4 linked regions of the Homo sapiens genome follow. The protein of the gene in region 2 purifies or fractionates together with the protein of the main gene of each other region. This does not show direct contact. Each region holds a gene or a part of one and is shown on either strand. Other genes may lie near its edges.

Region 1 (5,578 bases), on a different chromosome or scaffold from region 2:
TCCACTGTTTTTTCTGTGGTAATTGGCTGGAGTAGAATAGTTTTTGCCTAAAGTAATGTTTGTATGGCTTTTCATTGAATGGATTTTGGGTATCATAATTAACCCTTATGTCACAGTTTCCTCATTTGTAAAATGAGGAGGATAATAATTTCTACCTCATAGGGGCTTTAAGAATTAAATAAGTTAATATATGTAAAGCATATTTGACAATATGAGTGGATTTTTCAGCTTGAATAATTTTATTTTCCTATTACAGTGAAAAACCAAAATTCCAATATAGAACATTCAAAATAAATTATGAAACACAAAAGAATATTTATCATTCCCTTAGAATAAAATTCAGAAAGCATTCTCTCAAAAAAAGGAAAGAAAATGAAGGAGATGCCACTGCTGGACACCCCTTCTGTCTTGCTTTCTTACTGCTCCTTCTTTTTTTTTTTGAGACAGAATTTTATTTTTGTCGCCCAGGCTGGAGTGCAGTGGTGCAATCTCGGCTCACTGCAACCTCCGCCTCCCAGGTTCCTGCCTCAGCCTCCCTAGTAGCTGGGACTACAGGCGTGTGCCACCACGCCCAGCTAATTTTTGTATTTTTGGTAGAGACGGGGTTTTACCACGTTGGCCAGGCTGGTCTCGAATTCCTGACCTCAACTGATTCGCCCGCCTCAGCCTCCCAAAATGCTGGGATTACAGGCGTGAGCCACCACACCCAGCCTGCTCCTTCTTCTTCACACTCACTTCTACTCCCCCTCTCAGATTTATAACAAGGAACATACAAACTTTTATTTTATTTTTTTGAGACAGAGCCTTACTCTGTCACCCAGGCTGGGGTACAGTGACACGATCTCAGCTCACTGAAGCCTCTGCCCCCCGGAATCAAGTGATTCTTCTGCCTCAGCTTCCCCCATAGCTGAGATTACAAGCATGCACCACCACACCCGGCTAATTTTTATATTTTTAGTAGATACAAGTTTCACCATGTTGGCCAGGCTGGTCTCAAACTCCAGACCTCAAGTGATCCACCCACCTCGGCCTCCCACAGCGATGGGATTAGAGGTGTGAGCCACCATGCCCAGCCTAAACCACTTTAAAAGAGCCCCATGATACAAAAGAAAACATCTTCCACAAAACCCCCCTACATCCCTGGGGCAAGCCTACTAGTCCTAGTCCTGAGGAAGTTCATCTTGAAGGTAGTGTTGCAGGTGATGCCATAGATACTGGGACATGGACCGCCTCCCCCTCCCTTCCTCTCACCCATCCCAGAGAGAGGGTGGAGATAGGATCAGAGAGGAGGGGCCCAGAGGCCAGGAACAAACACCCAACAGACTCCTGTCAGTGTGTGTAGGTGCTTTTATATGTGTTAATGAACCTTGATGTCAGAGGGCTGGGGAGATTGAGAAAGAACATCTTTATAATGTTTTTGGTATTGTTTTACTTATTGAAAAAAAGCAAACAGGGGCCCTGAAATATAAAATATGTTCAGTAAAGGAATGAGGCTGGAGGCACAATAAAGCAGGCAAAGAGAGCAAAAGAAAGAAAAGACGAATGATAAGGGACCTAAAAAGTAAAGATGATATATTGCAAAGATGACACTGTCTTAAGCTAGCACCTCCTTTCCCTTAATATTGTTCTTTTTTGTAGTGAAAACAGAGCTAGGCAGGGAGGGTTAGGGTGGGAGGTGAGCAGGCAGGGCAGATGTGCTTCGGTGGGCGATTGGGAAGGCAGGTGGCACGTCTACACCCTCTCTGCCCAGCGCCTGTCCTGGGTGGTTCCTGCTGCCTCCAAGGCAGTCAGGAGAACCAAACAGCTTGGGCTGCCATGGCAGGTGCCCTGGCTATGGCCCAGCAGGTGGCAGCACACCCCTAGAGGTCCTGGGCCCGGTGGCTGCCTCATGGATGGAGGAGTTGCCCAGCAGGTGCTCACCTTGTGGATGCTGGCTGCTTACCTCTGAAAGTCCTTATTTAGCACACTTGGGTGTAGAAGCGTTTCTTGCGTCCATCTTGGAAGCTTAGAAATCCAATCTGCTTAGCTCTTCCTCCAGGAGGTTTGAGCAGCAGGTAACACACACCAAGCAGAAGGGAGAAAGCAAAGGCCTTGGAGGCAGAGGACGGATTCTGGGGTTGTGTACACTGTCTTCACTTACAACAGCTATTAGGTAGCACACGAAAGAGAATCTTGGTAGCTGTGTTTATTTTTACTTATGTAAGAAATATTGGGGTTTCTTTCTTTCTATGTATTTAAGAGAGAGTCTTGCTCTGTCACCCAGGCTGGAGTGCAGTGGCATCATCATAGCTCACGGCAGCCTCAAAATCCTTGGCTGAGGTGATCCTCCCTCCTCAACCTCCTTAGTAGCTGGTACTGCAGGCACGCACCACTATGCCTGGCTAATTTTTTATTTTATTTTAATTTAATTTAAAATTTTTTTATTTTTATTTTTGAGACAAGGTCTCACTCTGTCACCTAGGCTGAAATGCAGTGGTGTGAACATGCTCACTACAGCTTCAACCTCCCGGGCTCCAGTGATCCTCCCACCTCAGCCTCCTGAGTAGGGGGACAAAGGCACATGCTACCACACCTGGCTCATGTTTAAAAAATTTTTGTAGAGATGAGGTCTTGCCATGTTGCCCAGGCTTGGCTGGAACTCCTGGGCTCAAGCGATCCTCTCGCCTCAACCGCCTGAGTAGCTGGGACTACAGGCATGCACCACCACACCTGACAAAAAAAAATTTTTTTTTTTTGAGACAGAGTCTCATTCTGTCTCCCAGGCTGCAGTGCAATGGTGTGATCTCGGCTCACTGCAACCTCTGCCTCCCAGGTTCAAGCGATTCTCCTGCCTCAGCCTCTCGAGTAGCTGGGACTACAGGCGCCCGCCACCATGCCTGGCTAATTTTTTTGTATTTTTAGTAGAGACGGGGTTTCACCGTGTTAGCCGGGATGGTCTCAATCTCCTGACCTCGTGATCCACCTGTCTCGGCCTCCCAAAGTGCTGGGATTACAGGCTTGAGCCACCGCACCTGGACTAAACTCAAAAGTTTATAATAAGATCTATGTCAGAACATGGATACCTCTGTCTACTATAATATTTTATTTAAAAAAAATTTTAATAAGCGTGGCAAATTCCTGAACAAACTTTTTGAAATTTATTTTTTATTATTTTTTTGAGACAAGGTCTCCCTCTGTCACTCAGGCTAGAGTACAATGGCATGATCTCGGCTCACTGCAACCTCCGCCTCTGGGGCTCAAGTGATTCTCCTGCCTCAGCCTCCCAAGTAGCTGGGTCTACAGGTGCACGCCACCATGCCCGGCTAATTTTTGTATTTTTAATAGAGACAGGGTTTTGCTTTGTTGGCGAGGCTGGTCTCGAACTCCTGACCTCAAGTGATCTGCCCACCTCAGCCTCCCAAAGTGCCAGGATTACAGGCATGAGGATTACAGGATTACATGCCAGGATTACAGGATTACACCATGTCTGGCCAATCATAATCTTTTTTTTTTTTTTTTTTTTTCTGAGATGGAGTCTCGCTCTTGTCCCACAGGCTGGAGTGTAGTGGCACAATCTTGGCTCACTGCAACCTCTGCCTCCTGCATGAATCAAGCGATTCTCATGCCTCAGCCTCCCAAGTAGGGGGATTACAGGGGAATATGTCATCACACCCAGCTAATTTTTGTATTTTTAGTAGAGATGGGGTTTCGCCATGTTGGCCAGGCTGGTCTCCTACTCCTGACCTCAAGTGATCCACCCGCCTCAGCCTCCCAAAGTGCTGTGATTACAGGCGTGAGCCACCATGTCCGGCCTCAATCATAATCTTTTATTTTATTTTTTATTTTATTTTATTTTATTTTATTTGAGACAGAGTCTTGCTCTGTCGCCAGGCCGGAGTGTAGTGGTGCGATTTCGGCTCACTGCAACCTCCGCCTCCTCGGTTCAAGCGATTCTCCTGCCTCAGCCTCCCAAGTAGCTGGGATTACAGCTGCCCGCCACTATGCCTAGCTAATTTTTGTATATTTAGTAGAGATGGAGTTTCACTATGTTAGTGAGGCTGGTCTCAAACTCCTGACCTCAGGTGATCTGTCCACCTCAGCCTCCCAAAGTGCTGGGATGACAGGCGTGAGCCACCGCACCGGCCAATCATAATCTTTTAAATGAGTCTCCCCGTTGATGGGGATCTTGGCTGGCTAGTATCAACAGTGTTGTAGAGAGCATCCTTGTATATTTATTTTTGCCATACTTCTACAAGTCCAGATTCCTAGGACTTGGGTCAAAGGGAAAGAACATTTTAAATTTTGATGGCTGAATTTTCTTCCAGATAGGTTGCCCCAGTTTATATGCCCACCAAGAATGTGTAGAGTACCTGTCTTCGAGTGGCTGTCGAGAAAGCGGGGTACTGTGCTCCTGCCTGTTGCAGCAGCCCCTGGACATCTGCAGTGGTGAGGTTGAGCACTTAGCAGGAGGTGGGCCCAGCTCCTGTGCTGGGCGACAGTGGCTCACTCCCTCCATGGCCTTGGCCTCCTCCATTGCCAGTCTCCCTGGTGGCTAGGAAGTGGGCGCCAGCAGCTTCTCTTTTAGGTGTGCATGGGATTCCCCTTACCCATTGAGCAAGGTTTTCCTGTTTGTCCCTGGGATGAGAGTGAATGGCCATGTCTTCTGTCTGACTCTTCCAGGTAAAGAAGGCGTATAGGCAGAAGGCCCTCTCCTGCCACCCAGACAAAAATCCAGATAATCCCAGAGCAGGTGAGACTCTTCTCAGGGCGTGGGGAGAAAGAAACCCACTCACCCGGGCATTGTGTTTCCCGATGTAAGCTCTGCATGTGAGTGCTGTGGGGTGTAAGCACACATTGCCTGGCTCCAGGCAATGGGTCCCAGGGCTTCCCTCCTGTGAGGGGTGTCTGGTCAGTTGCTGATATGCTCACCCCTCCTTGTTGGTCTGTCATCTGCTGATGTCGGCTTGTCTGCCATCCTGTGACTTCTTTGAAGATTTTTTTTTTTTTTGAGGGAGCACACCATTACGAAGTCTTAACTTTATTTTTCTTCTGTCTTTTTGATCCTTATGTTTAGCTGAACTCTTCCACCAGCTTTCTCAGGCCTTGGAGGTGCTGACCGATGCTGCAGCCAGGGTAAGCACAGCCTCCTTCATCGGAATCGTCCCCCATGGTTAGAGACCACTGCTGCCTCTCAACCTCGGTCCTCTGCCCTTTGCCATGTGGCACAGTCCTTGCTGTCTAAGCCCAGGAGACCCAGTCACCAGGCTGCCACTCTGATGGCTCGTGGGCTAGGGGCCAGGCAGATTGCCGGGGCTCTGTCTTTACTCTCTCACTGACCCTCTGCCCTGTGCCCCTTTCTCCTGCCAGGCTGCATATGACAAGGTCAGGAAAGCCAAGAAGCAAGCAGCAGAGAGGACCCAGAAACTTGATGAGAAAAGGAAGAAAGTGAAGCTTGGTAGGTGCCATCATAGTGCTCGGTGGCCTGTGGTTTCCTGTGGTCATTTTCATTCATCTCCCTCACCTGAAGCTTCACTTCCAGCAACTCATCTCAAAGCCTTTTGGCTCAGGCTCTGGGCAAAACGCTGTTCTTAGAGGTTGG
Region 2 (4,769 bases):
GCTCACTGCAACCTCCGCTTCCCAGGTTCAAGCAGTTCTCCTGCCTCAGCCTCCTGAGTTAACTGGTAGCTGGGATTACAGTCACATGCCAGCATGCCTGGCTAATTTTTGTATTCTTAGTAAAGATGGGGTTTTGCCATGTTGGCCAGGCTGGTTTCAAACTCCTGACCTCAAGTGATCCGCCCACCTCAGCCTCCCAAAGTGCTGGGATTACAGGCGTAAGCCACTCTACCCAGCCAATTTTAACTTTTTAAAGTGCTGCTGGGAGCCGTTGCTGTTGCCTTTTAGTTTTAAGTTCTGCTGGTACAGACAAGACTTGACTCTTTTTAGAGGCAGGTCTTCCTAAGGCTGTGTCGTCATCCCCCAGCCCCTGGCCCCAGTACGCTCTGCTTTGATTCTAAGTGGGGGAGGAGGAGGGTCACCCAAATTGGATCACAGCTTTCATTTGCATTGCTTACAAAACGGATACCCCGCAAGCTGACAGAAGCTGCTGTGTGTGTGTGAGTGTGTGTGTGTATGTGAATGTATACAACAATTTAGACAGTGGCAGGCTGTATTTGAAGCCTATGGAATGGCTATTCGTTAAGGAGAAGATGGGAGCACACACTCACTGGGTTCCCAGGGGAAGCTGACTTTGATGTTGCCCGGGAGCAGGGCTGATTCTGTGAGGTGTAACTAGAGACAGGATTTACCAGGAGAGTCTGCTTCCTGGAGAATGTTGAAATATCTGATGCCGTTTACTTTGAAACCCGTAGATCATTCTCTTTGCCTTAAAAGTTATTTCAACATCTTCAAAACAACCTGTCCAGGAGTGGGGGCTGGGGAGAGCGCTTGCAGCACGACAACGGTGTGCAATCCCTGATCATCCCTGGAAGACTGACTCCTACTCGGGACCCTGTTCCTCCTCCTCCCGGCGCCTGTCCACATCTGCGCTGACTCCCACTCGGGACCCCTGTCCCTCCTCCTCCCGGCGCCTGCCCGCATCTGCGGTGTTGGTTGCTTTTTGTGGTGTCCACACGTTTCCTTTGTGTTCTGGTTCTGCATGGGAAGAGCCCTGCAGCTTGGGGCTTTCCATCCATCTCTTTCTTTTTCCCTTATTTTTGGTTGGTGACTCTTGGCGGCTCTCTGTGGGGACACTGATGCTCTCCAAGAAGGTACTTCTTGAATCAGTGACCCTTATTGTCTTTTTCTGATGAGGGTCTAAGGTTTTCCTTCAGTGAATCAGTGCTGTCTTATCTGGAACATTTTAGGGAACTGGAATTTGCATTTATCCCCTTGGCTTTATATTATTGAAAAAGAACTTAGGTCTTTTGCTGCCAAAACAGTTGTTACCAAACCATATTTGATCACGAGAGTAGTGGAACAATTTATTATGAAGGGGGAAAACTCAGCACCTTTCTTTCCCTGGTTGTCCTGGCTTTTGTGGGCTTGCGTCCAGGGCACCCAGCTGGGCTCTGGGCTCTTTCTCTCCCCAGATAAGGTCTCCTCCTGGGTGCATTCGGGAAGTTATTTGGAGGGTTCTTCCAGATTTTTGAATGCCCTTACATTTTCGAGCCCTCACGGCAGGCTTAGGAGAGGATTTACCTCTTTTATTGCTGAGCTAGGGAGGGGTCCAGCCTCCACAGGGAGGTGACACGGCGTGGCCCCAGCCTGCCCATTCAGGAACTGGACCCACTTCAGGGTCAGAAGAGGACAACTGAGGTCTCATCTGCAAAGTCCCGGGGCCTTGCTGAGGCAGGAGAGCCTGTTGCAGGTCTGACCCTTCACATGTTGCTTGTAGGGAGTGGGCTACCCACCCCTCACCACCCCGAGAACAGCCTGAGCCCGGGGCGCATCTCTGTCTCTGTGTGGAGAGACACTGCCGCTTCTGTTCCCTGGGAAGCCAGTGCCATTTTCAGCATTTAGGGGGTTCCTGGTGAGGGCTCAGGAGAGATCTGGGCCCAGAGCCAGCCACACTCCTTGTGTTGAGTAAGACTCATCCCATCTCTGATCTGTGACACGAGGAGAGGAGCCCCTCACTCACCCGCCACAGCTCAGGGTGGTGATGCGGCACCATTGGAGTGAGCGGCCCCGGGGGACTGGGGAGGCTCTGGCCGGCGTAGTCCTTGCCGCCAGCCTTCACAGCGGGTTCTCTGAGGGTCTTTATGCACAGGGGCTCTGTCACTTAGCTCTGGCCCCCCCTCTGCCCCTGAGGCATGACTTTGGGCAACGCAGCATCCAAGCCTCAGTTTCCCCATCTCTAAGATGAGTTGACAACAGAGCCTCTCTGGTGGGTGCCGTGGGCCACAGGGTGCCCAGAACGCAGTCCCCGTGCCTCTGTTTCTGTGCTGCCTCCACTCACCGTCAGCCTTCATTCGGAGTAGGTGCGCATGCTGTGCAAAGCCCTTCCACACACCTGATCTCAGTTGCTCTCTGTGCAAAAGTCAGAGAGGCTTTCCCTGCATTTCCTGTTTGAACAGTGTCCTGGCCTCCATCTTTAGCTTTGACAGTGTTTACCATGGGGGTGCTGAGGGTGAGTTCTTGTGTATGTGCACATCTTTCTGGTGGAGTGGAGGCCTCTTGAGGACAGGAACCTTGTGGGTCTACCTCCTTTTCTTCGGAGCTCAGCTGACTGCCTGGCAAACAGCAGATGCTTTTGGTGTCTGGTGAGTGAATGGGGGGTGGGGAGCTGGTCCTGTGACCCTGGTGAGGCGGGACAAACTTGTCTTCCTCACACCCATCTTACTTCCTCTTATGAGGAAACCCAGAGAGATGAGGGGTCTTGCCCAAGGAAGGGGTGTCCATAGTCAGCTCTGCCTTCTGCTCACCCAGAATAAAGACCTGGGGACCCCGCGAGGGTCATGGCCAAGTGGAATGGACTCCTGGCATTTGAGGGCTTCCCGACTGCAGCCCTCAGGCAGCCATGGCTGTCCCAAGTCCAGCGGGCCTTTGCTCGGGTCATGGCTGGGATGTCTGGCCCTTCCTGACAGGAGGCTGCTGGGCTCCTGTCTACTTGGGGACGCCTCATGCAGGAGCTGGTGTGGGGGTGGGCAGGGGGGCGGTGGCTTCTTCCTTTCTCTTTCCCTTTCCTCTACCTTTTCCCCTCTCCCCAGAGGAAATGGTAGCAGGATTTCTTTTAAGAGGATGCTGCTGTATTTTGCCAGCGGGTGGAAGGTGGCGGTATTAGCTCCCGTGAGCTGCACGTGGACCCCTGTGTGAAGCGTAGCAGGGCACAGAGCAGGCGAGACGTTTGCATCTCACAGCGGGAGGGCCGGCGACATCACATGAAGTGACAGGCAGGCCCTTGGAAGCCGGTGCTTAGATCCTTAATTAGTTCACACGTCGACTGAATTTTCAAGTGAATGAATTTTAATTACATCTCAGGTTAAAAAAAAAAAAAGGCGCCAGTGATCGAGGACTCGTCACTGGGCTCTGTTGCTCCTGAAGTTTCCTAGCCCACAACACACCAACACTGCCAAGGGCTCTTCTGGATTCAAGGTGAAACACATGTGCCATAAATCTTGGAGCTCTGAATGTTTGGAAAGGGCCCGACTGTGAGAAGAAGTAACACACCGTCCCGTGCAGATGGCTGGCTCTGAGGAGGAGTTCATGGGAGCTTGGGGACACTCTTGCCTCTAGTTCTAGGAAGCTGGGCCACTTCTGAAGTAATGGCAATATCAATAAAGTAATGGTCTTTATCATAGAATAACGTGATAAAATATATAGAGAAGTAAAAAAGTATAAATAAAAGTAAAATCATCATAAAACATAGTAGCTAGGCACTTCTGAAGCTGTGTGTGCACTGATTCATTCACCCAGTGACTCACAGCCTTATAGCCTAGGTGCTGGCACCCCTACTTTCATTCGAGGAAGTGAACTCAGGTTCAGGAATTTACCCAGCATCCCCCAGATGGGGTGGCAGGAGCCACATCTTCCCTGAAAACTTTCTTGCCCAGGGTGTCTGCTGGGATTTAGGAATGGTCTATGCCTGCATTTTTATCCTGGTCAGGCTGACCCTGAACCCTGAGAGATACTCTTTTTTATATTCCCATCTGGAATATGCACTGCCGGGGTCAGTGGGGTGTCTGGAGGGCCCTCTCGAGGCCAGCTTGGATGTGACACGTGTCGTGGGTCCCAACGGGGCCCAGTAGAGTGTGCAGCGTTAGAAAAATGAACATGCTCGGCTGGGCGCGGTGGCTCACGCCTGTGATCCTAGCACTTTGGGAGGCCAAGATGGGTGGATCATGAGGTCAGGAGATCAAGACCATCCTGGCTAACATGAGACCATCCTGGTGAAACCCCATCTCTACTAAAAATACAAAAAATTAGCTGGGCGTGGTGGCAGGTGCCTATGGTCCCAGCTACTCAGGAGGCTGAGGTAGGAGAATGGTGTGAACCTGGGAGGGGGAGCTTGCAGTAAGCGGAGATTGCACCACTGCACTCCAGCCTGGGTGACAGAGTGCGACTCTGTCTCAAAAAAAAAAAAAAGAAAAAAAAAGAAAAAAAGAAAAATGAACATGCTCATGGTGACCTCTGGGCAACTTTGAAATAGCCTCAGTTTCTCAACAGCCGTGCCAGGGGGCGGGGGTGGGGTGTGGAGAGTGTTAGAGTTGAGTTTCAGCACCAGTCCTTGAAAGTGCCTTTCAGAAGAACAGGTTTTATCCCCCAAACAGAGAGACAGTGGTCAGTTCACCGTACTTCGGTGCACGTTTGCAGACCTGGTGGGAAGAGGGGCATCTTAGAGCCGAGACCCATTCACTCTTGGCACTCCAGGTGGAGCTGGGCCTTTG
Region 3 (5,578 bases), on a different chromosome or scaffold from region 2:
ATAACAAAAAGCATTCCACATACTAGAACCTGCGGGGTGCCTCTACAGCAGTTCTCAGAGGAAATCATGGCTGATATATTTATGCTATTAAATTTTAAAAAATGAATGGAGCATAATAAAATAGGGAAATAATAGAACTAAGCAAAAACTAAAGAGATGGTTCTTTGGGAAAAACTACCACAAAAACAAAACAAAATCAATAAAACATATAAACTATTAAAGCTAATCATGTAATGTATCATATTATATTATGTTATATTATTATATTACTATTATATTAATCTATCATGTTGATAGTGTGTACCCTTGATATGATATAATGAAATCTTCCTTTGGGTGTCTTCCCCAAAACCCATAACCTCACTCTAATCATGAGAAAAACAAAGGACAAATTCCATCTGGAGGCCATCCCACAAAATACCTGACCTAACCGGCAAGGTCATCGGAACCAAAGTCTGAGAAACCATCATAGTGAAGAGGGCCCTAAGGAGACCTAACAATTCCACATAATGTGGTATCCTGGATGGGATCTGGAACAGAAAAAGGATATTAGGGGCTGGGCTTGGTGGCTCACACCTGTAATCCCAGAACTTTGGGAGGCCAAGGCAGGTGGATCATTTGAGGTCAAGAGTTCAAGACTAGCCTGGCCAACATGGTGAAATGCTGTCTCTACTAAAAAAATAAAATTAGCCAGGTGTGGCGGCACACGCCTGTAGTCCCAGCTACTTTGGAGGCTGAGGTGGGAGGACTGCTTTAACCCAGGAGGTGGAGGTTGCAGTAAGCCAAGATCGTGCCACTGCACTCCAGCTTGGGTGACAGAGGGAGACTCCATCTCAAAAAAAAAAAAAAAGAAAGAAAGAAAAGGAAAGAAAAAGAAAGAAAGAGAAGAAAAAGGATATTAGGTAAAAACTGAAATCTGAGAAAAAAAGGAAATCTGAAAAAATATGTTAATAACAATTATTAATATTAATTATTAAAATAAGTTAATAATAATGTATCAATACTGGTTCATTAGTTGTGATAAATGTGCCATACTAATGTAAGATGCTAATAATTGGGGAAACTAGGGTGATAAATGGAGTGAGCATATGGGACCTCTCTGTACTATCTGTTTAGTTTTTCTTTAAATCTAAAACTATTCTGAAGAAATAAAGCTCATTAATTAGAAAAGGTTAAATAAATGTCTAAATTTTAGAGAATACAAAAAAAGGACAAAAACTAGAATTCACCTCTTTCTCCTATCTCATTAACCAGATATAAACATTGTCAGCTTTTGGAGGAATTTTGCTTTATTCTCTCTTTTTTTTTGGTCTATAAATTATAATGAATTTTCTTTTTAAAAATTGGTATAATGGGCCTTTATTTAGATTATTTCACCTAAAAATTATGTAATTTGCATTTTCACATATCACTAAATATACTTTAAATGCATAAGTAACTAAATTTTTAAAAACACATAAAACATAAACCATATAATCATTTAATGGGGGAGAAGACAGAAATATGTAAAACAAGAAATGAAAATGGGAAATAACAAAACGGTGTAGCTGAAAGCACTTGTAAAAGAAGTTAGACTTGTTTTAACATAAGAAAAAATTTGCAACACAAATTACCAACAAATATATGTCAAACTCCTACAAATGAATACAAGTACAAAATATGAAAAGATATCAACAGTTTACACAAAAACAAATGGTTCCTTTGAAAAGATACTCAATGTATACTGAAAAAGAAATGAGTTAGAACTCCATTGAAATGCCATTTTTGTCTATCAGCTTATTAAAGGTCAAAAAAATGGATAACGCATGCTTGGAGAATGTGTGGAACAGAAGACAGACTCATACATTGCTAAAGTGGATATAAACTGGTTTAGCCTCGGCAAATGGCAAATTAACACCATCTTTCAGAATTGCAAATATACAGACCCTTTGACCTAGCAATTCTACTTCCAGCATTTATTCAGATATGTTCTCAAATGCACAAAACTACCTATGTACACAGCACATGCATACATACTGCATACATACGCAGCACTCTTTGCAATAGCAGCCCGGGCTCAGAGAGGTTGCATAACTTGCATAACCTGGGGTCACACAGCCAGGAAGTGGCAGGACTGGGATCAACCCCAGAGTTACCATATGACAAGCCTGTGCTCTTACTTCTTCCTCCATGTTGTTTAGAATAATGCCCTCTCCACAGCAATGACTGTAACCAGCTCTGTGTGGCCCACACAGAAAATTTCTAAGGGAAACTGCTTTATCCTTGCACACAACCATGCCAACTGTGGAGTTGCTGTTGCTGAAAAGACACTTAAACATGTTTGAAAGCAACAGCCAAACAGCAGCCCCAGGGAAGACCTCTTACTAGTACTTGGCTTGGCCCATACTGGGTCATTGAGGGCCCAGTGCTCTCCTTTGCAATCATAGTCTCAAAGTCTCTGTCCCTACTAGAGGCAGGCAGAGATCCTGAAGAGTGCTCACACTGTGGTGTGACAAGGTGGGCAAGTAAATAGACAGCCCCTTTGCTGCTCCCCCAGTACAGGGCGCACAGCAGAGTGCTCATGTCCATGAATGATAAGCCGTTAAGGGAAACTAGCAGCTGGGCAATCTAATGAAGGACAGGAGACCTAGATGTGAATCCCCACCTGTCTGTTGGACCCTAGGCCAGAACTTAATCTCTCTGAGACTGGTTGGAAGTGCTGCTAACTATGTGCTAACCTCACCTGCTTTTGCAAGTATCAGAGCAGACACCTGTAAAGTCTGGCACATCACAGGGCTTCCAGTAAGTGGTGAGTGCTCTTTTAAATTGTGGATGTGTTCCAACATTGCCATTTCACCACTTGAATGTGCCTGGCTATGAACTGATTGTGTCCTCCCCAAATTCACATGTTGAAGCCTAATATAGGTTGGATATTTGTCCCTGCTCAAATCTCATGTTGAGTTGTAATCCTCAGTGCTGGAGGTGAGGCCTGGTGGGAGCTGTCTGGGTCATGGGGGTGAGTCTGTCATGGCTTGGTGCTGTCTTAGGGATAGTGACTGAGTTCTGGAGAGATATCTGCTCATTTAAAAGTGTGTGACACCTCCCCACCCCCGCCTCTTGCTCTTGTTTTCACCATGTGACATGCCTTCTCCTCCTTCACCTTCTGCCATGACTGTAAGCTTCCTGAGGCCTCTCTAGAAGCCAAGCAGATGCCAGCACCGTGCTTCCTGTAAAGCCTGCAGAACCGTGAGCCAACTAAACTTCTTTTCATTATAAATTACTCAGTCTTAGGTATTTCTTTATAGCAATGCAAAAATGGCCTAACACAAAGCCCCAGTGTGATAGTATTTGGAGGTGGAGCCTTTGAGAGATAATTAGTCCATGAGGGTGAGCTCCACCTCCTCTAGGAAGCCTGCCCTGATCCAGTAGGCCTCCTGGGGCCTGCCCTGTACCTCTGTCCACCCTTGAGCCAGCCAGGGGGACATCTTTCAGGCCTTACTGATCTGCTTTTTTCTACCTTGAGGGCATTCCTCTGATGGCAGGAAACTTTCACCAGCACTTCTGTGCCCCCAGCCACTGCACTACTCCCTCCATGCAAGACACAAGCCTGGTACTTTGAACATGGGGCAGAACACACATATGGACTGTGGAGAGGTTGTGCTGGGCTTCAGGGAGGGCTCATGCTCTGCTGTTTTTCAGAGGATGAAGCAGAGAAAGGGCCAGGGCTAAAGTCAGGATATGGGGACATGAAGCCCAGTAATGCCACTATCATAGTTGGACTCTCACTCCTGAGCAGCTGACTCTTGGCTGTATCCAGTCTACTCCTTTATTAGCTACTGCTTTGCATCCTTCCCTGCTTCCAACCCTCATTTATTCGTTCAAAAAATGCTTAGTGAACACAGTGCCAGGCACTGTGCAGCTGAGAGCAAGGGACACAGCAGTGGCCAAGTCGGGCTCATCCCTGCCTTCTCTCTCCAGCCAGAGGGAGTGGGCACTTAGCACATTTCTCCTCTCCTCATCTCCACTACAGCATGCAGCACTGGGCCAGGCACATGGGACATACAACAGGATCCATCTTCCTGACAGGAATACCATCATCTCTCAACCCAGTAAGCAGCCAGCATCCTGAAGAACGCCAAAGGATGCCTCCGTCACTTTTCCCCAAAACCAAACTTAATTTCCTACGTCATGCTTGGATGGGGATGCTTAATGACATTATCCAGAAGGATCTGCTCTGGGGCTTCAATCATGGCTGAGCAAGAAAACAAAAACTCTAATTTGCTAATTGCCTTTCCCAGGACCCTAGCAGATGTTCCTACCCGACAGGGAAATGAGGAGACATGAAGTGGCAATGCCACACTGTTTAAGGAACCTCATTAGTTTGAAAAATATGATGCACAGTCTTCAGAGGCCTGGGACCCAAAATCACAGCCACAGAGGCCTGTCTAGCTGAGCTCAATAGGCACGGGGTCTGCAAGAAGACATGACTGCTGTGGGGATTGGTAGTGACTGCGTGAAATGCCCTTCTCTCTGTGTGGCCTCTGGCTTTGGACTTGCTGGAGCCAGAGGTGGGGGCAAGTCTCCTTCTTTCATCTAGCCAGCAGTAATGATGCCTGCCCTGGGGATCTCAGGCTGCTGAAAAGCATAAGACTCAACCACTTTCCCTTAGGGAGACAGCCTACACCAAAGGGGTCAGACTCCACGAGAGATCTGAATAATGACAAAGACTGTAAAAAGAAATCCAGTTAGATACCACTGGAATTCCTTTATAGACTGCATATTACTTTCAAATATATACTACTGCACTTGTAAAAGTACACAGTTGATCTAATCACGCTCCTGCTCAAAATCCTCGACAGGTTCTCTGAGGCTTTCAGGATATTAGATATTAGTGCCTCTGGGGAGCTCCCCAGCCCCCTGTGCTCTCAGAGCCCTTGTACTTGTGCCCACCACAGCTCTTATCACAAGGGGACATGATGTCTCTTTGGCTGCCTCCCTCCCATCGGACTGGGGCAACTTGGGAGCAGGGGCCGGGTGTCCCTCATCAGAGTCCCCATGGACCTGGCTTAGAGAAAGTGGTGGGTGAACGTCTATGGAATGCACGAGCACGAACAAATGAAGAAAAGCAATACACTGCCTTAGAAAGAACCAACACTTAAGAATGAACTGGGAATGCAGAGCACTGTGAGCTCAGACTATTTATTTCATGTCTTTATTTTTCAATTTTTGACTCTGTGCAAAGGTACCAATGATAGGTGCCTGACCTTAGTTTAACTGGAATGTTTTTAAGATTTTTCTTGTGCAAATATTAAGTAGGGAGGCTGTTTTATTAAAGATGCTCATTCAGAATGAACCCACCAACAATGAATGAACTAAAGAACCCCCAAGGTTTTGTTCATAGGCATTCATTAGCTTTTCCCTGCTATACACACATGGAGCTCAGGCTACAACTGGCTGGGCAAGCCCTTTCTTCCCCAAGAGCTCACAAAGAGAGCCATCTGTCCAGTTCCAGGTGGAATCATCTCACGCCTGTTTTCCTGGAGCGAGAATCAATGAGGCTTCCCTGAGCCTCTCCTCCTCCTGGGGTTTCCATGGGAAT
Region 4 (5,578 bases), on a different chromosome or scaffold from region 2:
TTTTTTTTGCTGGCGGGGAGGCACCATGTTCCTCCCTAGTCATTTCCCAGTTTCCCAGGATGTTCATTCTGCACATCTTCCTTGTGACCCCCTCTGGTTAGGGGGACTGGAAACTCCCAGCATCTGTTCTCTGACCCTCCCTAGGGACCTGGCTGCTTTGGGAGTGGGAGAAGGGGGAGGCAGGAGGAGGGAGGCCCCCTCACCCCTTGAGCTGTTTTCCAAGAAGGCTGACGTCCCTGGGGCCCACTCTAAGGGTCACTCCTGGCTCCTCCAGGATTGGCCTGAAGTGCCTCTCTGACGGTGCTGCTGAAACTGCTGTTGCTTTAGAAACCAGGCCTTTGGGGGTTTGCTTTTGCAGAGATGGGGGGTGCATTGTCACAGAGCTTCAGGCACAGTTGCAGCAAACCCTGGAAGGAAGAGGCCACTGCTTATTCCTGTGTTACACATTAGGAAACAGGGACAGAGAAGTGAAAGAACTCACCCATGCAGCTAGCAAGGGCAGATCCTGAATTTGAACCAGGACTGCTGCCTCTGGGGGCCATGTGGATTGAGCCATGGTGAGGCCTTGGTTGGCACAGGAGGAGGCTGGAGGCAGGGCCAGGCTTGGGGTTGTGTGGTGGCCTAGCTGTTCTCTGTGGACACAGCTGCAGCAGGGGAGGCCCAGTGCCCTCTTTGCCTGTTTCTGATGAGGAATTGTGTGTGCACAAGAGTCTAGCTCCCCGAGGACAGCGACCAGCAGGTTCTCCATTGAGAAAGGAGGTTTGGTTTTCCCAGTTTCCTTTGGGTTCCTGAAGTCCCTTGCTTCCTGCCTCTATGTTGTCACTATCCAGAGGGTTACAGGCCCTCAGTGTTTGCCCTTTACTGAGTACTGGCACTGCATGAGATGTGGGTCCTACCCTCAGTGGGCATGGGGCATGTCCCTCTCAAAGCAGGCATGGACAGGTAACCAGCTGACTGCAGCAAGGCCTGAGGAGTCCCAGTGGGAGGCCACTTGGTGGGGGCCAGGGAGAGGGAAGTGCCCCCCAGGGCAGGGGTGAGGCAAAAGAGTGGGGTGGGGAGTTCTGCTTCCTCAGAGCCCCCAGTGCAGTCACTGGCCCTGACCATATCATTTAGGGCTGAAGTACGGGCCTTGGCCAGGCCCTCCAAGCAAATGTGATGTGGTCATTCATTCAACAAACATAAACCAAACACAGCTCCTCCCTGTCTGGTGCTGCGCTGAGTGCCGGGGACACAGGGTTTGACAAAAACACAGTCACTACCCTTGTAAGGTGAGGAAGAGGGATATCAAATGATCCCAGACATGAGAAAGGGGATTCCAAAAAGAGCTGTAGTCCTGTCCTGGGATTTGCAGGGTGTGCATCCTTAAAAAAGAAATGTTGGGGCTGAGACCCTGTCGAAGGTGTGGCTGGGAGGGACGGGATTGTTCCTGGCTGAAGGGATGACCTGGGCAAAGGCAGGGCGGGGGGACGGTCAGGCAGTAGGTTGGGAGGAAGACAGGGAGGGTGCCCTGCATGGACCAGTTCAGAGTGTTTTGTGAAAAGGGCCTGCAGCCTTTGCTCACCAGCCACTGGTGCAGTTTAACCAGAGCCTTCAGGAAGCATCCTGGGAGATGGGGGGACCTTGAGGACACTGGGCTGTCACTGCCTCCTGGCTGCAGAGGTGTGGCTGGAGCAGCCTCTGCAGGATAGGAGGGCCTCACACTCTTGTGCTTGGCCATTTGTCATATACTCTGAGTTCACAGCTTTGGGGGCAGCTGTAGTCGGGGGGCGGTTACGGCAGGCTGCTCTCCAAGACCAAGTTCCCTGGGGACAAGCTGAGCTTTCCAGGGCTGAGGCAACTGACCCCACAGTGGCCCTGGCCAGAGGTGAATGGGTGTAGCTCCACTTCCTGCACCCTGGGCTGGGGCCTGGAAGCTCACCTCCAAGAGGGGGTTGCTGGCCTGGTCCATTGGCCAAAGGGGGCTCCTGGTGGTACCCAAACTGTGAACACCCTGCCCATGAGGCAGGGCTTGGGCCTGGGTGGACTTTGCCCACATTGAGAAGTGGGGAGCGAGGTGAGGCCACATCTGCTCCCAGAGCAGCTTGGCACCAGAGGGACCTTGAGATCATGCCCTCCACAGGCCCAGCCCTAAACTATGAGGCCACCCTGTAGTTCCTCTTCTGTCCCTGGACTGATGAGCCAGTGTCACTCATCTCTAAGTTGTTCAGTATGTTTCCCTGACAAAATAAGGACATAATTCTTTACATAATACAATTCCATGATCAACTCATTTCTTAGTGTTACCTCATATCCAGGCCATTTACATTTTCCAGATCCCCCAAATGTCTTTTTTTTTTTTTTTTTGAGACGGAGTTTTGCTCCTTTTGCCCAGGCTAGAGTGCAGTGGCGCAATCTCGGCTCACCGCAACCTCCGCCTCCTGGGTTCAAGCGATTCTCCTGCCTCAGCCTCCCGAGTAGCTGGATTACAGGCATGCGCCACCACGCCTGGCTAATTTTGTATTTTTTAGTAGAGACAGGGTTTCTCCATGTTGGCCAGGCTGGTCTTGAACTCCCGACCTCAGGTGATCCGCCCGCCTCAGCCTCCCACAGTGCTGTGATTACAGGCGTGAGCCACCTCACCCGGCCTTTTTTTTTTTTTTTTTTTTGAGACAGAGTCTCGCTCTGTCACCCAGGCTGGAGTGCAGTGGCGGGATCTTGGCTCACTGCAACCTCCGCCTCCCAGGTTCAAGCGATTCTCCTGCCTCAGCCTCCTGAGTAGCTGGGATTACAGGTGCACACCACCATGCCTAGCTGATTTTTGTATTTTTAGTAGAGATGGGGTTTCGCCATGTTGGCCAGGCTGGTCCCAAACTCCTGACCTCAGGTGATCTACCCGCCTTGGCTTCCCAAAGTGCTGGGATTACAGGTGTGAGCCGCAGCGCCCGGCACCCCCCAAAATGTCTTCTTTGATAGGTAGTTCGAAACACCCTCTCCTTTATTTTTCTTCTTGCAGCTGATGTGGTGAAAAAAACAGGTCAGTTGTCCTGAAGATTATCCTTTTTTGGTCTGTTAAGTGTGTGTTGATCTAGAACAAGGGTTGGCAAACTTTTGCTCTGAAGGGCCAAATAATAAATGGTTTAGACTTTGCAGGCCATATGGTCTCTATCATAACTACTTGGAAGTAACTTTGTTTTAGTGCAAAAACAGACAACATGTAAGTGAATGAAGTGTAGTGTTCTATTAGTAAAACTTTATTTGCAAAAATTTATTTGCCAGGCCTGGCGGCTCACGTCTGTAATCCCAGCACTTTGGGAGGCTGAGGTGGGTGGATCGCTTAAGCTCCGGAGTTTGAGACCAGCCTGGGCAACTCTGTCTCTACAAAAATTAGCCGGGCATGGTGGTGCGTGGCTGTGGTCTCAGCTACTTGGCAGGCTGGGGTGGGAGGATTGCTTGAGCCTGGGAGATTACGGTGGCAGTGAGCTGGACTCCAGCCTGGGCTGGACAGAGTGAGACCCTGTCTCAAAAACAAAAACAAAAACACAACAGGCAGCAACCTTACCATCAGCTGTGTAATCAGCTGTAGTTTGCTGCTTTCCTATCTAGAATAATCTCCCTCGTTTTATTTTTCTTCTTTCTTTTTTTTTTTTCTTGAGACAGAGTCTCGCTGTGTCACCCAGGCTGAAGTGCCGTGGCGCGATCTTGGCTCACTGCAACCTCCGCCTTCCGGATTCAAGTGATTCTCCTGCCTCAACCTCCCAACTAGCTGGGACTACAGCTGCCCGCCACCACACCCGGCTAATCTTTGTACTTTTGGTAGAGACTGGGTTTCACTATGTTGGCCAGGCTGGTCTTGAACTCCTTACCTTGTGATCCGTGAAAGTGCTGGGATTACAGGCGTGAGCCACCGTTCCCAGCCTGCTTTCTTTTTCTTCTTGACATTTGAAAACAAAAACAAAAACAAAAAACAGGTCAGTCATCCTGTAGAATATCCTGCCTTCTGGGCTCGTCTCATTGCTTTCTCATGGAGTCATTAAATTTGTTCCCCTCTCCTCTGTGTTTTTAGCAAATGAGAAGTTGAAGTTAGAGGCTGGTTTAGATTCCAGGTTAAACCTTTTTGGCAGGAATCCCTTGTCAGTGATGCTGTGACTTTGGGCTGCCTTACTTCAGGAGGCATCAGTGTGACAGGCTGTCCTGCAGAGAGTAGAGAGATAGACCAGTGTGTGACTGGGAGAAGTCACATACCTCCATTGCAAACTTGTGCCATTCCTCTTAAACACCAGGTCCTCGGCCAGGCATGGTGGCTCACACCTGTAATCCCAACACTTTGGGAGGCCGAAGTGAGCGGATTGCTTGAGGTCAGGAGTTCGAGACCAGCCTGGCCAACATGGTGAAACCCTGTCTCTACTAAAAATACAAAAATTAGCTAGGCGTGGTGGCGGGCGCCTGTAGTCCCAGCTACTCGGGATGCTGAGGTGGGAGAGTCGCTCGAACCCAGGAGGCAGATGTTGCAGTTAGCCGAGATCGTGCCATTGCATCCCAGCCTGGGTGACAAGAGTGAAACTCCGTCTCAGAAAAAAAAAAAAAACAAAAACCATACCAGGTCCTCTGTCAGTGACGCTTGGGCGCCTGTGAGTATCTGCTTCCTGTCAACCTTCCCCTCTGGTTTAGCATCCACTGGTTCTTGTTGCCTCCAGCATTTGTTCCTTTAGGGGTTGCAGAATGACTTAGCATTTGGTCATTTCTTTGTTATTTATTAGCAAGAATTCTTTCCGAAAGAAGAGCTTTCCATCAACCACCAGGGCAATTTGGTTACAAGAAAGGCCAAGAGACAGGCTGAATTCTTCCTCTTTAATCCTCAGCTTTCAGAGTAAAGAGGGCACTGCTACCGTCAGTGGTGACAAATGAGGGCTTTTGAGGGCTTGGGTTTGTTTGTTTTGCTTTCTCTCTTCTTTTCTAATAATCTCTGTGAATGCACTGCTTTTATGTGTTCCATCTGTTTCCATCAGTTGCACTCATTATTCTTTTTGATGCTCAGATGGTCCCAGCTCGGCCCATTGGAGGCTTCCTGGGGCGCCTCTCACTGCCCCTGTGCTGAGGCTGCCGTTGGGGAGCTGAGGCGGAGGCAGGCCTGAGACTCAGGGCAGGGTCTGAATGGGGTTCAGGTGGGGGCACACCCCCTCCACAGGCATCTGTTTTGCATATGGCCCTGACCGATCACCAGGAGGGAAAGCTCTAAGGGCACGCTTACTTTATGTGGTCCCCTGTTCTTGCCCACCATCGAGCACCCTGTTGCCTCTGACCGCACCCAGCTGCATTGCTTGTGTGACCTGAATAAGGTAGCTCCAGGCCCAGCCTTTGGGGTCAGCAGCACCAGAACTGGTCCCTGGAAAATACCAATAAAGTCCTCCTTTCCAGGCTGCCCCTCCTGCCAGTCTCTGGGGGTGCTGGGGATAGGAGTCCTATGCTGTTGCTTTGGCACCTAGAAGCTGCAGCTCAGCACATGCTGGCAGGACCCTGAGTCACTGGGGTATCAGGAAGGGGTGAGGGCTCTTGGTGAATGTGGGCAGTCGGTAGAGGGTGGGCAGAAGCCCCCGTGCTA

The links.
Region 1: the proteins of AACS (region 2) and DNAJC17 fractionate together in Homo sapiens (co-fractionation; one large-scale study listed by BioGRID). This does not show direct contact.
Region 3: the proteins of AACS (region 2) and SPSB4 purify together in Homo sapiens (co-immunoprecipitation; one large-scale study listed by IntAct). This does not show direct contact.
Region 4: the proteins of AACS (region 2) and ADISSP fractionate together in Homo sapiens (co-fractionation; one large-scale study listed by BioGRID). This does not show direct contact.

Annotation. Positions count from the first base shown.
Region 1 is NC_000015.10:40,779,079-40,784,656, reverse strand, and holds part of DNAJC17 (dnaJ homolog subfamily C member 17), read left to right. Parts: intron 1-4,659; coding exon 4,660-4,729; intron 4,730-5,053; coding exon 5,054-5,112; intron 5,113-5,346; coding exon 5,347-5,434; intron 5,435-5,578. UniProt on the Homo sapiens protein: May negatively affect PAX8-induced thyroglobulin/TG transcription.
Region 2 is NC_000012.12:125,137,244-125,142,012, forward strand, and holds part of AACS (acetoacetyl-CoA synthetase), read left to right. Parts: exon of another isoform or gene 1-3,685; intron 3,686-4,769.
Region 3 is NC_000003.12:141,057,011-141,062,588, reverse strand, and holds part of SPSB4 (SPRY domain-containing SOCS box protein 4), read right to left. Parts: intron 1-5,578. UniProt on the Homo sapiens protein: Substrate recognition component of a SCF-like ECS (Elongin BC-CUL2/5-SOCS-box protein) E3 ubiquitin-protein ligase complex which mediates the ubiquitination and subsequent proteasomal degradation of target proteins.
Region 4 is NC_000020.11:3,760,323-3,765,900, reverse strand, and holds part of ADISSP (adipose-secreted signaling protein), read left to right. Parts: intron 1-5,578. UniProt on the Homo sapiens protein: Adipocyte-secreted protein (adipokine) that acts as a key regulator for white adipose tissue (WAT) thermogenesis and glucose homeostasis at least in part through activation of protein kinase A (PKA).